Regions from separate parts of the Homo sapiens genome. Here region 2 is linked to region 1. Evidence: fine-mapped expression QTL. A gene starts in region 1. The other region holds a variant in brackets. All regions are shown on one strand. Distances are between the middles of the regions.

Region 1 (5,378 bases):
CTTCCACTTCGTATCTATCAAGTGGAAAAAGGGGCAAACCCTTTGACACAGGAATACCTCTCCTCAGATTCTCTTCCACAGAAATACTCACACTTGAGCAGGAAGATGAATGTGTGATCTGCTCTGAAGCAACGTTGCTAATGCTGAATGTCCATCAATATAGGAAAGGATGGATAAATTACATTCTATTTCTACTTTAGGATAACATGTAGCTGGCCGGGCGCAGTGGCTCACGCCTGTAATCCTAGCACTGTGGGAGGCCAAGGCAGGTGGACTGCTTGAACCCAGGAGTTCAAGACCAGTCTGGGCATCATGGAGAGACCCAATCTTTACAAAAAATACAAAAAAAAAAAAGTCAGGTGTGGTGTCATGTGCCTGTAGTTCCAGCTTCTCAGGAGGCTGAGGTGGGAGGATCACTTGAGCCCAGAAGGTCGAGGCTGCAGTGAGCCATGATCATGACACTGCACTTCTGCCTGTGTGACAGAGTGAGACCATCTCACACACACACAAAAAGAATAACACGTAGCCATTAACAAAAGAGGTATCTAGAGACAATGGAAAGATCTCTAAGACTTGGAAAGTGAAAAAGCAAGCTGTACAATAAGTATAGTAAGATAATTTGCATATTTAAAACATATGTATATGTATGTATTATGTAAAACTATAGAAAAGAAAAACAAGCCTTAGAATGGTATTATCAAACTTAACCTTCCCTCTTCTGAGTGGGAGGAGGGAGGATGGTGATGGCACGTCTACATTTCACTTCACTTCTATATTGAGTGAGAATGAGTTGTTATTATTTGTATTATTTTTAAAACACAAAAATAGAATACAACGTGGAGTGCACAAATGCAGAGCGACCAGTACAACTAAAATGAGGAGGGAAGGAAGGCTATGAAGCCACCAACACAGCTGTTGGAAAAGAAATTCTCTCTTCATGTAGCTACAAAGAAGCCTGCTTGGAGGAGGGGATTTCTCCAGCAAGGCCATGATATTCTATTTGTTTTGGTTTGGGTTTTTTTCCCCCCATTTTACACATTTTTTAAGCAATCAAGAAGGATTTTCTCCCCCAGCGAAAGGAGGGCCAAGGCTCACAGTTCCTGTAAGTGAGCAAGACCACACTCACTAAGATTCTCTTCTACTGCAGCCAATGAATGCCCCAGTCCTTTCCCACAAGGAAAATACACACCTTCTTCTTGTTAAATACAGTACCACTGATTCCCCTTTGAAAACCGTAACAGTTCTCCTGATTCGGTTTTGTCCTCAGGACAAAAGGGTTACAAAAACATGAGAGATCCAGGAACACCTCTGCATGTGTTCCTGGTCTGTTCAGGTTAAAGAAAAGGGTAGAGGGGGAAAGAACCAGTGTTTATGTGTTCTCCCCAATGCGGCTCGGGTCCCTGCGGAAGAAACACCCAAGACCAGCCTTTTTCTCTCAAAGCCACCTTTGATACAAAAGGCTTAGCCACACCTGCTGGGACAAACGGGAACTGGGACCAAGATGTAAGTCACAAGGAGGCAATTTACAGCAGAGAACTAGCTCTTCCTACAATAAAATGTGAGGTGGTGAGCTTCCTGCCACTGGAGGCACTGAACAAATGCTACGGGGAAAACAAACTGAGTATTTCCTGAAGATTCTGAATAGAAGGCTGTGTTTGGAGTTTGATGCTTTGAAAGCTCAAGAAATGATTCTCAGACACAGCGGAGTTTGGGGACATCAAGGGCTCTGAGTGCATTTTAAAGCAGCCCAGGAGAGAGACAAAGCAAGACCATAATGAAACACCCCACCCAGTCTTAGAGTTTGAGCTACAGCACGGTGATCATGAGCAGACTCCAAACCCAAATCCTGATACTGTCACCTGCTAGCTGTGTAACCCTAGAAAAGTTACAAAACCTCTTTGGGCCTCAGTTTCCTCAATAAAATATAATAAAAAACTAGTACCCGCCTCACCCGTGAAGCTTAAATGAGCTAGCATATGTCAAGTGCTTAGAATAGGGGCTGGTTCACAGTAAGTATGAACCATTATTATTTGCAGACAAGGAAACTAAGAGGTGATAAGTAGTTTGACCCATGTTCCAAAGTCAGTTTTAATCTTGGGAATAAAACCTAAAAATTTCTTTCTCCTCCATCAGAATTCCTTCTAGCTCAAACTAAGTATCCTACATTCAATTCTATCTTCTCTGCCTTCATAGACCCTTCCATTTACTTCTCTTGAATATCTTGTTCCCAAAGTGTTTTCAAGGCAGGTCTGTTACCAAGCCACTCCATCAGCAGCACCTAGCACTGTGCCTCCCGCAGCAAGGCAGGCAGGATGGATGGACGGATGCAGGCATGCATGGGTAGGTGGATGAAGGGCAGATGAAGAACTATCGAGAAAGGAATCGCGGTGTCAGGGGTAAAGCCCTGGCCTGCGAGAGCCGGGCTCGGATTTCAGTGCCCTCACAGCTAGCCATATGGCCTTGGACAAGTTACTGAACCCCTCCGTGCCTAGGTTTCCAGAATGTAGAGGGCCACTTCCACTCAAGTGGCTGGAGAAGAAGGTAAGCGCCCCGGACGGACGCTATTGCAGAGTCGCCCGGGGATTCCTCTCTCCACCTGTGCTTGAGCTCCTCCCGCTTCTACGCTAGGGACCAGGTGGGAGAGATACACGGATTCCCAGAAAAATGGCTCTCTCAGGTGGGAGTCAAGGGTTACGAGAGGAGAGGTAGGGGAAGCAATGAACTCCTCCACACGATGTGTTGGGAGAGAGGAAAGAGGGATTCAAGTGGGAATTTTCCACTCAACAAACATTCCACCATCATTTGAGAAAAAGGCGCTGGGATGGTGAATTTCAAACAGTCTGAGAAATGGGCGACTCGGCACTGTGCGGCCTGTAAGGAATGAATCATTTAGTTTTCACCCACCAGGTAGGCAGGCCGGGGGCGAGGACCCTCCGAGCGCCGTCCGAGCGCAGGTGGTAGCCCAGCCAAGCAAACGCTGGGCAGAGGCGGCACCGAGGAGGGGAACGGGCTGCTGCACTCCCGGTCGCGTCCAGCCGGGATGGGCTGCGAAGTTGTCGGATTCTTTCCCGCACAGCACGGGGCTCGCCCGTCGGAAAAGCCACCGAGGGCGGCGCAGCGGCAGGGCGCGAGCAGAGCGGGGACGGGCGGGTCGGGGGTACTCACGCCGCGGGCGAAGGGCTCCACGAGCCGGGCCGAGTCCTCGGCGGCGCGTGGGGCGCGGGTGCGGGCTCCGGGGCGGACGTGCAGAGGCGGCCCGGGCCGGGGCTATGAATCAGCTGCGGGGCAAGCGCGGAGGGGCGGGAGTTACTGGAAAACCGCGGGGGAGGGCAGAGGGGTGAGGTCTTTTGCAATTTCCCGTCTTGCTGCGCACTCTTGGCACTCCTGGGACCCACAGGAATTCCCTCCCTTCAGTCCCGGGGGGAGGCGGCCGCGATCCTGGGGGAGGCGCAGCCTCACAACCCGGACTTTGCGGGCGGGCGGGCACTGGTGAGAAGAGGAAGTGGGAGAGGCCTGGGAAGGAAACTTGGAAACCGAAAACTCGGCGGCCGAGGCTCCGTGCCCCGCGCGCAGCGCTGCTCCTGCCCCGGCCAAGGACGCACGGGCCAGCCGGCGGAACCAGAGGTAAGCCGAGTGACCGATGAGGCCTGGGGCTGTGTATCCCACAGGGGCACTTGTCATCCCAACCCAGAGGCCAAACCCGTGAGATCCCCGTCCGAAAATCTTCAGGCAAGAGAAGTCCTTTAACTAAATTTTGGCCGTGTTTCCATTTGGCGTCCAGAGCAACGAAAACGTGTTTGAACCGAATCAAACGGTCCCCATTTTTCCCCTACTCGCGTTCTATCCAGAAACGCCCTGTCCGACAAAGTTTCTTCGGCTACAACAGTCCCGAAACCTTTATTTCCCAATGCTACGACATGCTACACATGGTTTACTTTTCCCCTTAAAAATGCCATCCAATCTTCAACCTTTTTTTTTTTTTTTTTTTGAGACGGCATCTCACTGTGTCACCCAGGCTGGAGTGCAGTGGCGCGATCTCGGCTCACTGTAAGCTCCGCCTCCCGGGTTCACACCATTCTCCTGCCTCAGCCTCCCTAGTAGCTGGGACTACAGACGACCGCCACCACGCCTGGCTAATTTTTCTATGTTTAGTAGAGACGGGGTTTCACCGTGTTAGCCAGGATGGTCTCGATCTCCTGACCTCGTGATCCGCCCGCCTCAGCCTCCCAAAGTGCTGGGATTACAGGCGTCAGCCACTGCGCCCGGCCAAAAATGCCATCCAATCTTTACCGTGTCTGGGCCTTTGAAAGGTGCATTTCACCTCTCTTAGAGGATAACAGGAGCCTTCCGAGGCAGCCTCGGACCGGGAGCTCCCATAGCCTCGCCTGTCTGGATGCCTGACAAATCAGCAGGCAAGGGGCCTTGCTCCAGATCAGCTGAGCCTAGTTTGGTTTGAGTTTGGGGACCCTGGAAAGTATCACAAAAGCAAGGTTGTAGGAGGGGGGTGGGGGAGGGAACCAAGAGTGATCAACAAGTATCGACCATAAACATATCTTAGAATCCTATATTGAATTGACTGGATGACTCAAAATAATGTCAGAATTATTTTAAAATGTTACTTTTGTGTTTGTTCACATATCTGGCTCCTCCCCAATGTCATCCCAAGGAAAGCTGAGAGTCCTTTTGTTTTTTTATTTTTCCTAAAACAAAGGCCTAAAGGCCCTAATACACTTAATACCTAATGGGGCCACAAAGACCATGATGCATAGTAAATATTTGATGATAATAAAATGTATTTTTGTCTCAATAAATGTATGGTCCTTTGCCACACCTCTCATTACTTGAAGAGTTTTAAAGAGTCCATTAGTTTAGCCATCTGCATGGTTATGGAAACTGCCAAGCCCAAGAGTTGGAAAGTCTTTATGATTTTATATTTTACTGAGAAAAAAAATTATTCTTTATAGAAACAGTTAAAAGGGATCTCTCTTCTAGCAAATGAGATGTCAAATAAAAATATTCAGCCCAGTATGAATTTCTAAAAAGTGAGGCTTATTTTGGGCTCCTATTGCAATTGAAGGAGACTGAAGTGTAAAAATTTGGTGCCCACATATAATTTATCTGTTTTTGCACCATTCTAATTTCTTAAATTTATACGTTATTCTAGAATCTAGATGCAGTAGCACCATATAAATTCGCGATTATACCCTTAACAGTGGGTGCACTGGGTCCATAAAGTCAGATCCACCCAAAACCTCCAAATATCAGTTTATTTGGAAATAATGTTTTTGCAGCTTTAATCAAGTTAACCTGAGGTCATATAAGATTAATCCAGTGTCTGCTGTACTTCTGAAAAGGGGGGAATTTGGACACAGACACCC
Region 2 (5,378 bases), 330 kb before region 1:
AAAAATATTATCTGTTATTATCATGGACTTAAAAGGACTCTTGTTAGCTAGTGTGGGAACAAACAAGCCGACATTTACATGCAAAACTACGTATGGACTCTTCTGTGCCCCAGCCCGCGGAAAGCCAGGGCTAGATAGAAGATTTTCAAACTCAGCCAGTTTTCTATGTGCTTGACAAGATGATACGTTTCCTAACATAAAGGATTTCCTAAGATTATAAGAAAATTATCCGGTACCTATCAGAAAACTATTGCAATGTGTTAAAAGATGTTGGGGGGAAGCTGTCTAGTACACACAATGTTAATTTCCCAGGTGATATTTCTTTAAAGATTTTTTAAATTCACCTCAGTTGTCATCAGAAACATAATGGGAGGACTTATGCATTTTTTTGAATCTTGTTGCAGTTAAAAAAAACCTCAATGTTGCCCATGTTTTTCCACTTTATTTGGATATTTTACCAGTAACTTTATTTTCGTCTCTCTCCACATTACCTCATAGTCTGTCTTTATTCTCCCATATTACAGTGAAGATTCAGAGGCTCAGAGATTAAGTGATTTATACAATGTTATGTAATTCATAGGAAGGACAGCCAAAATTAAACCACGGGCATTTTGACGACTATAGAGTCTGAATTTGTTCTATGATATTTGAGCCTGACAGAGGCATCATCCCACTAAAGTGCTTGTAAAACTGTAGGGCATACAGTACACACTCAATAAACGCTACTGTAATCTCATCATGACTCATCTACTAAGCCTTCTGCAGGATGTTCACACATGAATGTTGCAGAGGAAAAATGATTCAAATACATTCAGAAAATCTTGGGTTAAGCAAAGTTAAATTAGTTCTCTTATTATAAAGTCTTTGAGACAGTAATGAACACTATGAATATCAAAGGAAAAGTATAATTCACAGCAATTTCCAAATCATATTTGACCACAGAACCTTTTTGTTCTTTCTCCCAAAATATCTAAGTAGGACCAATGTTCACAGGAATTAACTTTGGGGGAAATGCTGCATGAGGTCAATGCAGGTAACAGATAATACTTACAATTTTAGTTCACTGGTGGAAAATATTTTGTGTTTGCAGGAAAGCTATTTTACTGTACAAGAGCAGAAGTAGCATAAAAGGGAACTTAAAGTCATTGTTCTAAATCTTAATTTGCTTGAGATGGGGAAGCGGAGTGAGAACAGCTTTGCAAAAATATGTCACCAGTAAAGTAGGAAGTGGGTATTCTTGCAGCTTCTAACAGCTTCAGCAACTTTGTTGTTCAAAGCCAGAGCTGCAAGACACCTTATCTCACAAAGCATACACACGTACACATGCAATCTCCAGGACGTGAAAAAGAAAATGAAGAGAGTTACAGATTTTGTTGGTGCCATTTCATATATAAAATGTTGAGGCTCAAAAGTTTGAAGTAAAACAATGGCAAATTTTGTAAAACTCACTGTGGGAAAAAATAGTTTTGCATTCTAAATGATTCTATGACAATCAGTAGTTTGAGCACAATACGTTGTAGAGAACTTAATCAGCCTGCAGTTATTACATTGAGCAATGTGGTTAGGTTTAATGTCAAGAGATTCAGTCCTGGGCCCAACTCTGTCAGCTTTGGGAGACCTGGGACAAATAACTTCTTTGACCACCTTCTCATTTTGCAAAATGTGAAGGTTGAATTAGACCACCCCTGAGATACCTTCTAGCTCTATAGCTCTGTGAATTTAAAGGAACAGGTAGGTTACGGACTTCTTTGGTTTGTTAGTTACCCCAAGGAAATAGAGTCCTCTCTAGGTAGCAGGCGCACAATAGTAAGAAGGCAGCAACAGAAACAATAAACTTTGGAGGTTAGCCACAGCCCTCAGGAAACAAGATAGGTGTCTAGCCTCCAGCCTGTGGGGCCACTGCATGATGTTACTAAATTCAGGATGGTACTGAAATAAGTGTGAGCTACCAATGCCTGGAAATAATGAAAGCCATCAAAAAGTTATATTCTACTGTTGCCAGGACAAAAGTTCCTGAGATAGTCTACATCTTTCAAAGTCAGAAACAACATACAGGAGAATGAGGATAACTGCCTTCCTCCCACACACCCATGATGCCTAATTGAAATTGTAACCCCCCAGTCTCTGGAAATTAGGCTGGCCTCTTTCCTTTCTGTTTTTGCTCCTGCCTATCAAGATGAAACCTAGTTGTGGTTTTACCAGTGCATTTCTTTTAGCTGCCTACACCATCTCAATTAAAATGGGCTTGAGGAGCCACACCAAATAACTAGCACATGAAATAACTTCACTCAGAAAATCAGGAAGTTGTGTTGCTATTTTTATTTTACTTTTAACAAAAAGCCTCATTTCTGAAAAACTAATGTTTTCGTCTTTGTTTCCTTTCCCACAATTTATGACTGTTTTGAGAGACAAACAGCATTTATCTTTTTAAAGATTGGCACTTTTAAAGAAACACCAGTCAGAATAATCAAGAAATGAAGACCAATCATATGATCATCCAAAGTTGCAGGTTGTTAAATGTTTCATTGTTTTATTTCAAAGTATAGATTATCTTTTGTTAATGATTGTAATAGCAGCAGTGTGCCTTTCTAAACATGTTGTTCTTAAGCAAATATAAAAATGACTTGGGGCCTGGCATGGTGGCTCATGCCTGTAATCTCAGCACTTTGGAAGGCCGAAGCGAGTGAATCACCTGGGGTCAGGAGTTCGAGACCAGCCTGGCCAACTGGTGAAACCCTGTATCTACTAAAAATGCAAAAATGAGCTGGGCCTGGTGGTGCGCACCTGTAATCCCAGCTACTCGGGAGGCTGAGGCAGGAGAATCACTTGAACCCAGGAGGTGGGGGTTGCAGTAAGCCAAGATCGCGCCATTGCACTCCAGTCTGGGCGACAGAGTGAGACTCTGTCTTTAAAAAAAAAAAAAAAAAAAAAAAAAAAAAACAGAAAAAAAATGACTTGGGATTCTCTGAACACAAGACAACAAATATGAAGAGGCCACTGTGGGGCACTAGAATGAGTTCCCGTAGAAGGGAGGCTGTATTTGAGGAGAGCTGATCTGTGCTCTGTACCGGCCCCTGGAGCACATAATCCTTCTGGATCTCAGCTATAAAATGAGTGATTCCATATTCTTGAATGTCACTGATGTCTGGGACACACTATTCCTTATCCATTAGAATTCTCCTATCA[T/C]AGGAATTTTAGACTCCCTGACCTTGAGCCCCTAAGAAGCCAGTAGCATTCACTAGGTTATTCACTATTGTAATGACCAAAAGCAACCCCTTCCCCCAACACCAGCACTCAATTCCAAACACTTCCTTGAAAGCTGGTACTGCCTACCCCCATTTGGAGGCACCAGCCAATGAGTTCTGAGATTCCTTTCTGCCCAGCATTCTTTAAGGAGTGGCCAGGAAGAATACTGGGTAGTTAGGAGCCTGCAGTTTAAAATCTCTCAGAAACATTCCACACAGCATGTACCCGCATGAAAAGGGCATATAAATTGTTGAGCCTATTATTAAATTACACAGCAGCGTTTCTACCTGCTTTCACAGCAAGTTTTGTCACTTCTCTTTTATAAGTCCCAGAAGAAGGCAGAGGTTTTCCCCAATGAGTCAAAAGAAGCCCCCAGCTAGTTACAACCATTGGACACCGGCATACTCCAGCCCATGTGAGTCACTTTCTTGATAGAATGGTGTCAACTCAATCCAACAATGTTCACCGCTTATATCAGAGTCATCAATCAACCGGAGTCTTCTCCAAACCCTGTCTCCCTGTCTGATAGATGTCTAACCCAGTTGCTGTTGTCAAACTCCCTACGCCTACCAACTGGGCTCCTTCTTTGACATATTCTTGGTTTCTCCTTAAAGAAGGTTGAATAGCCAATGTAGTGTCTGCCTGGCTGGATCTCCATTCTGTTCTCTTTTCCTACCTCATGCCCCTTTTCCCTTTCCCCAGCTTAGAGACTTGACTATCAGCAATTCCCCTCCTCCTTATTGTTTATTTGTCAATCTTGCTTACTCCTAAATAATCATCCCACCACAAACGCACACACACAGGTAAGAGCAAGCAAACAAATAGAACCATAACTTTTAAAAAATTTTACAGTACTCCTCATCACAAAGAAAAGCTGAGACACTGGTTTCTCTATGGGAGAAGAGGTCTCCCTGCTTCTGTTCGCCCTTAGTCTATTAGTTGTTGACTTTGCATTTTGCCTAGTCTCTTCTTAGCTTCCTCTTTCATCTTAGAGAGTAACATGTACCTTTTCAGTTATTTCACCATTGAGATGCTGAAAACACTAACAAAAATAAGATGCTTATGTTTTATCTTTTTAAGGTTTTTAAACAAACTAAAAAGAGAGAAAGAGCTTATTTTGATTTCATGGCATGATAGAAAGAACTTCAGACTTAAAGAAGAAAAACAGGATTTTAGTCCGGGAGCTCATGTTTTTAAGCTTTGTGTCCTTGAGTAAATCATTTATTAAACTTATCTGGACCTTGGATTTTTCATCTTTGATAAAAAGGGAGAGTGTTTTTCAGGGTTTCCTTATGCTATGTCATCCCTAAGTCTAAATGATATTCTTATTCCATGTGTTAAAGTCCTGTGCAGAACCAGGAAGATGGCTTCACAAATAATCAACTGGTTTGTTTATGCCAAATTATATAAAAAGCACTGGAACAGTAAATTCAAAGACTTTCAGTCCTAGGGTTTTATGGTTCTATCTCTAGGAACAGAAATTCTGATTCCTTGGTCATTTGTTCTATAAGTGATATAGGATAGGCCCAAAAGGGATTCTATGTACAGAAATCAGTAGCATTTTTATATACCAACAACATTCTAGCAGAGAACCAAATCAAGAACACAATCCCATTTACAATAGCTACAAAGAAAATAAAATACCTAGGAATTCATCTAACCAAGGAAGTCAAAGACCTCTTCAAGGAGAACCACAAAACACTGCTGAAAGAAATCAGAGACCACACAAATAAATGGAAAAAATGTTCTATGCTCATGGATTGGAAGAATTGATATCATTAAAATGGCCATACTGCCTGCCCAAAGCAATTTACAGATTCAATGCTATCACTATCAAAATGCCAATGTCATTTTTCACAGAATTAGAAAAATCTATTCTAAAATTCATCTGGAATCAAAAAAAAGACTGAATAGACAAAGCAATACTAAGCAGGAAGAACTAAGCCAAAGGCATCTTACTGCCTGACTTTAGACTATACTATAAGGTTACAGTAACCCAAAGAGCATGATACTGGTACAAAAACAGACATATAGACCAGCTGAACAGAATAAAGAACCCAGAAATGAACCTACACTTCTACAAACTATCTGATCTTTGACAAAACTGACAAAAATAAGCAATGGAGAAAGGA

Which allele goes with the higher level. Positions count from the first base shown, and alleles are read on the strand shown. Sizes are in standard deviations (SD) of each study's normalised expression.
As copies of C replace T in region 2, the expression in tibial nerve of the gene that starts at base 3,280 in region 1 goes down (small effect, 0.37 SD a copy in GTEx).

The links. PIP is the estimated chance that this variant, and not a neighbour inherited with it, causes the effect. A credible set is the group of variants that fine-mapping cannot tell apart.
Region 2: its variant is the best candidate, but not a certain one, in a credible set for the expression of OSMR in tibial nerve (GTEx, PIP 0.80).

The regions. Positions count from the first base shown.
Region 1 is chr5:38,843,914-38,849,291 of GRCh38, reverse strand. It overlaps OSMR (oncostatin M receptor), which reads right to left and starts at 3,280. Exons shown (of 18, transcript NM_003999.3): 1 at 2,905-3,280. OSMR-DT (OSMR divergent transcript) reads left to right here and starts at 3,463. Exons shown (of 4, transcript NR_109951.1): 1 at 3,463-3,624.
Region 2 is chr5:39,173,700-39,179,077 of GRCh38, reverse strand. All of the region lies in intron 2 of FYB1 (FYN binding protein 1), which reads left to right. Among named protein-coding and RNA genes, the nearest start is that of FYB1, 43 kb to the left of the region's middle. RefSeq lists enhancers at 2,028-2,107, 2,138-2,197. The variant T/C (reference allele first, on the strand shown) is at 3,187.